2 separate regions of the Homo sapiens genome follow, and region 2 is linked to region 1. Evidence: fine-mapped expression QTL. Tissue or cell type: pancreatic islets. Region 1 holds a variant in brackets; the other region holds the start of a gene. All regions are shown on one strand. Distances are from middle to middle.

Region 1 (2,680 bases):
GGTCGGTGGGGGGAGTCGGCGTCTCTCTCCCCCGCGCCAGCTCCCGTACACGGAGCCGCATTCCTTGGCCCCCCCACCCCCCTCCCTCGGGGCCCCCCCGCCCCCCTCGGGAAAAAAATCCACCCCGAATCACTCGAACCCGAGGGAGGCTTCCTTTCACCCTTGGGGAGACGAGCTTTCAACGGTTACCTCTTCTTCGTCTCCCCCCAAGCCCCCGTCCCCTCCCCCTGCTCCCACCCCCTTCTGGCGCCGGGTGTAAGGTCCCTTTAAGGCGACGGCGCCTTCCTCGGGTCAGACTACCGGCGGCGACGACCACAGGAGGTGAGTGAGCGAGCGAGCCTTCTCTCTCCCCACCCCCTGCTCCCGGGGGTTCCGTTATCTTTTCGCTCGGCGAGGCGTTCAGAGGCGAGACAATGAGAGGGGGATGGGGCCGGTACGCGCGGGGGTGGGGGCGGGGGGCCGGCGGTGCGCGCCCCCGCCCACCGCGAGTGGCGGCGCGGCCCGCGGCAGGGGCGGCCGCGGGGTGCGGCGCGCGAGCGCGAGTGTGTGTGCGTGCGCCCCGGGCCGCGGGAGCCGCGCGAAGGGCCGGCGGCGGAGGTCCCTGCCTGCCGGCTGGCCGGCCGCCCCCGCCCCCCGGCGCCCGCCGCGGCGCGCGCGCGCGCACTCGCGCCCCACGGCCCCGCACACAGCCCGACGTCCACACGCACGCTCGGCGCGAGGCGTCTCGGAGGAGTGGGCGGCGCGGGCGCGGGCGGTGGCCCGCTGGGGAAGGGGCGGGGGCGGGGGCGCGGGCGGTGGCGAGACGGCGGGGCGCGGCGGGAGGGGCCGGCGAGGGGGCGAGGCCGTGCGGCGGAGGGGCGGGCGGCGGCGGAGCGGCCCCTGGGGGTGGGGGTGCGCGGCCCTCCCCGCCCCATTCCCGCTCCGAGAAGGAGTGGGGCGCTCGTTTTGAGCGGGAGGAGGAAAATGAGTGATTGCTGAGCCGATCCCTTGTGTTATGTAATCTCTGCTTGGTCTAATAGTACATCCTAAGCCTTAGTGCACTGCAGCTAGTTTACGAAGTCTCCTCCCTCGGTCCCCAAATTTCTTTTGGGATGGCGCCGTGATTTATAAAATGGAATGAGGCGGGGAATCTTTATTTTCTGGTGATTATGTCCTGCCGCGGTGGGCGCCATGTTTATCCCGGGGACTATTTTATTTAGATTCTTGGCACCTTTTGCAAAGGAGTACTGTCATTGATCTATTTGTTTTCCGTCTTTCTGCGTGTTGTTCTTATTTCCTTCCTCTCCAGATGTGGGATTCTCTCAAACTGCTAGTAGCACTTGTCTTAGACATTCTTAGTTCAGAAAAAGGTAGTGCTGATGAGTCCTTAGAGTCATTTAGTGGCCAGTCTCATTTTCGAAATGGAAACTAAGATGCAGTTGGACTATCTCACAGCAGCCGCCGTCTTGATGCAAGCGGTGTAGCCCGTCCTTCCAAGCCCGTAGACACCTCTTACCGCCGCTCAAAACTCCACAGAAATGGGGTTTTACTTTTTTTTTTTT[TTTTG/G]AGACGAAGTTTCACTCTTGTCGCCCAGGCTGGTGTGCAGTGGCACGATCTCTGCTCACTGCAACCTCCGCCTGCCGGGTTCCAGTGATTCTCCTGCCTCAGCCTTCCTAGTAGCTGGGATTACAGGCATGTGCTACCACGCCCGGCTAATTTTTGTATTTTTAGTAGGGACGAGGTTTCACCATGTTGGCCAGGCTGGTCTTGAACGCCTGACCTCAGGTGATCCGCCCGCCTTGGCCTCCCAAAGTGCTGGGATTACAGGCGTCAGCCACCGCGCCCGGCCGGGTTTTACTTCTGTAGGCATTTACCCAACTAGAGGAAAGGGAAACGGAGGGGGCAGGGAGGGCTGCTCGTTGGCAAACGATTAATTTTGAGACACTATTGCTCAGGGTCTGAGAGCTTGAACTCTGAATTCGAACTGTTAGCACAATCGTTCTCAACTTCGGGGTGCATAAAAAGTAACTTGAAGGTGGTTAAACGTACAATTTGGGGGGCCTCATCCCCCAAATTTATTTGAATGGAGCAGAGGGGGGTTGTCATCTTTACATTTTCAAATGAGCAGTCCTGGGGCTGAGACTGATTAATGTAACCACTACATTGAGAATTACTGGTCTAACATAAAAGTGTTCAAGATGTTGAAACAAGTGACACCTTGTGCCGTTGATTTCCTTCCCTTTTCCAGAGCTGTGTTGGTGGTGTATCTCAAACTAAAGGAGGTAACAGAATGGACTCTTGGGACGAACCTGATTTAGTTAGAGTTTCCACTCCCATCTTGAACTAGTGGTATAATGTAGGAAAGCAGTTCTCAAAGTGTGGACAGATGACCCATGGGGATCTCCTCTTACCCTTTCAGGGTAGCCTCAAGGTCATAACTATTTTCAAAATAATAGTAAGATGCTATTTATTGTTTTCACTGATACACTGATGGTTCAAAAGCAAGGCTGGGTAAAACTACTGGCGGTACCTTAGCACAAAGCAAGTCAGGGGCACCAAACTACTTGAGAATGCCCTTGAAGCAGTAAAATTTATTATTCTATTTTTATTTTTTTGAGGCGGAGTTTTGCTCTGTCGCCCAGGGTGGAGTGCAGTGGCACTATCTCGGCTCACTGCAATCTCTTCCTCCCTGGTTGTATTT
Region 2 (2,680 bases), 350 kb before region 1:
GGCCACAGCTTGGAGGAGCCTAGAGGCCTCAGGGGAAAGTCCCAATCCTGAGGGACCCTCCCAAACATTTCCATGGTGCTCCAGTCCACTGATCTTGGGTCTGGGGTGATCCAAATACCACCCCAGCTCCAGCTGTCTTCTACCACTAGAAGACCCAAGAGAAGCAGAAGTCGCTCGCACTGGTCAGTCGGAAGGCAAGATCAGATCCTGGAGGACTTTCCTGGCCTGCCCGCCAGCCCTGCTCTTGTTGTGGAGAAGGAAGCAGATGTGATCACATCACCCCGTCATTGGGCACCGCTGACTCCAGCATGGAGGACACCAGGGAGCAGGGCCTGGGCCTGTTTCCCCAGCTGTGATCTTGCCCAGAACCTCTCTTGGCTTCATAAACAGCTGTGAACCCTCCCCTGAGGGATTAACAGCAATGATGGGCAGTCGTGGAGTTGGGGGGGTTGGGGGTGGGATTGTGTCCTCTAAGGGGACGGGTTCATCTGAGTAAACATAAACCCCAACTTGTGCCATTCTTTATAAAATGATTTTAAAGGCAAGAAGTGTGTGTGTCAGAGGGTGGGGGAGATTCTTAAATTAGATTACCTGCATGCCTGCTCTCCAGTCTCATTCCTGGGTCAAGACTCAGGTTTCCAGCTCAGCAATCCATCAGCATTATACAGATCCAACCCACCCTCACCCGACCCCTGCAGTTTCTCCCCAGGTGGAGCAGTCCCTCAGTGAGGACTGTGAACGAATCTTCAGGAACCCCCACTGTAGGAGCCTCAAACTGAGCCCCACGGGAGATGCTCTAGACTGAGAACTTCCCATAAATGATACCCACGGGGAACGTTTAGATTTAGAGGTTGCACAGAATTGCTCCACATCTGGGAGACCAAAAGACAGTCCTCTGGAAGGTGGCTGGCCCAAGCTCCCCAGTGGGGGAATCAGGATGTCAGAGAGATCCTCTAGAACCTGCTGTTCTTGCTATTGCATGACCCCTCCCTGGCACCAGAGCCTCCCTCCTGGCTCCCTCCCCTGTCACTTGCCAGCCTGTAGTGGTGCTTGCTGCAGCCCTCCCTGGTTGCTTTATTTATTTATTTTGCACCAACAGGGTTGCTGCAGACTCATTCTTGCCTGGTTTAAAAAGAGAGAGAGAGAGAGAGGAAAAAAAAAAAGGAGAAATGCTTTCTGGCTCTTTTCTCCACCTCAGTCTTGGCAGCAGCGGCCGCAGCAGCAACAGCAGCAGCAGCAGCGGCAGGCAGCAGCCGGGCAGCCAGGCAGCGGGGGTTGAGGCACACAGGGAAGGTGCAGGGGCCTGAGGTGCAGCTCGAATGGGACAGGGCCCCCAGCGCTGGACAGATGCAGTGCCAAACTTGATGCCACCTTCCAGCTTCTCCGGTAAGTGCCCCCACTCTCTGTCCCAAAGATGCAGCCGCCCTTTTCCATAACATTCTCCGAGACAGGCCAGACTAGGGGCCAGACAGGCCCCTCAAGGCAAGAGGGTTTGGGCCCCCACACTGCTAACAATTAATCCTGGCCCCATGGGACTTTGAGGGGGAAACTCAAATATCCCAAGTACCCCTGGGTGGAAGGGCTCCAAGGAGACCTCCCTTCCATCTCCCCAGTGCTTCCCCTTCCTCTGGAAGGGTTTTTCTCCACAATCGGTGTGGATCTTCCAGAAATCTTTCCCCCAGGAACCCTCTCCCCACACAGTTCCCATTTGTCAGTCAGGTGTGCTTTAAAGAGGATACAGGATACCCAGGTTCAAAAGTGTCTCTGGACTGCCACATAAAGACAAGAAAAAGGCTCCCTACCCTTGAGGGGTGATGCCTTCAAGGGTCATGTCTTGGTGATGTCCCCACCCCACTGAAGGGACAAAAAAGTGGTTCTGACATCTCGCTTCCTGCAAAGTGGCCGGAAGCCGGTCCTGCAGCCATGGAGGTTGGCAAGGGAAATTTGTGATTAAATTAGCCACCTTAGAAATAAAATAGGTTGCTCCAGCTCCCTCAGCCCCTGGCCCAGCGGACTCAGGGGAAACTCACAGGAGCAGGAAGGAAGAAAGCTGGGTTACATGCTTCACTGCACTTTTGCTGAATGCAGAGCGAGGATGGGCAGGAACTGCAGCAGTAGTGATGAAGAGCTAGCTGTCAGGTGGACTTCCCAGAACAAGCCTAGGGAGAACAAGGGAGGCTGGGCCATCTTTCCCGGGAGAGCTCTGGGCATGCCACAGAGACCTGTTAGGTCAGTTTGGGGCGAGAAGAGTCTGCTCTGCAGTCTTTGCCCCACGTTATTCTTTTTCATCCCCAAGCCTCACACCAGTTTTCTGCATCCCTCTGCTCTTTTGGCCTCTTTCTTTAGTTTCCCAACTAGGACAATCCTCTCAAGTGGCTGTAGGATAGCCACTAGAATGATCCTTCTAGGAGGTGGAGAGTGGGAAGGAAAGGGGAAGAAATGACCATCTCTTAAACTGCCTCTCCTAAGTTCCACATGAGAAAAAACAGGGCATGTAGTAGAAAGCTGACCCTGTAGAGCCCAGAGAGCCTGAAGCCCACAAGCCCAAAGGTGATCAGGATTGCCGCTCAGCAGAGACTCAGACGCGCTGTATCCCAGAGAGCATCCATGGGCTTTTGCTCCTATCTCTGTAGCCATCCCTTGCCAATTCCAGTACTTCCTCTGCCTTGGGGTCCCTGTT

What was found. PIP is the estimated chance that this variant, and not a neighbour inherited with it, causes the effect.
Region 2: it holds the start of LINGO4, and the variant in region 1 is fine-mapped to the expression of LINGO4 in pancreatic islets (PISA, PIP 0.95).

Annotation. Positions count from the first base shown.
Region 1 is chr1:151,456,793-151,459,472 of GRCh38, reverse strand. POGZ (pogo transposable element derived with ZNF domain) reads left to right here. Exons shown (of 19, transcript NM_015100.4): 1 at 1-321. Among named protein-coding and RNA genes, the nearest start is that of POGZ, 1.4 kb to the left of the region's middle. RefSeq lists silencers at 589-638, 829-878. The variant TTTTG/G (reference allele first, on the strand shown) is at 1,542.
Region 2 is chr1:151,803,936-151,806,615 of GRCh38, reverse strand. It overlaps LINGO4 (leucine rich repeat and Ig domain containing 4), which reads left to right and starts at 1,197. Exons shown (of 2, transcript NM_001004432.4): 1 at 1,197-1,386. RORC (RAR related orphan receptor C) reads left to right here. Exons shown (of 11, transcript NM_005060.4): 11 at 1-545.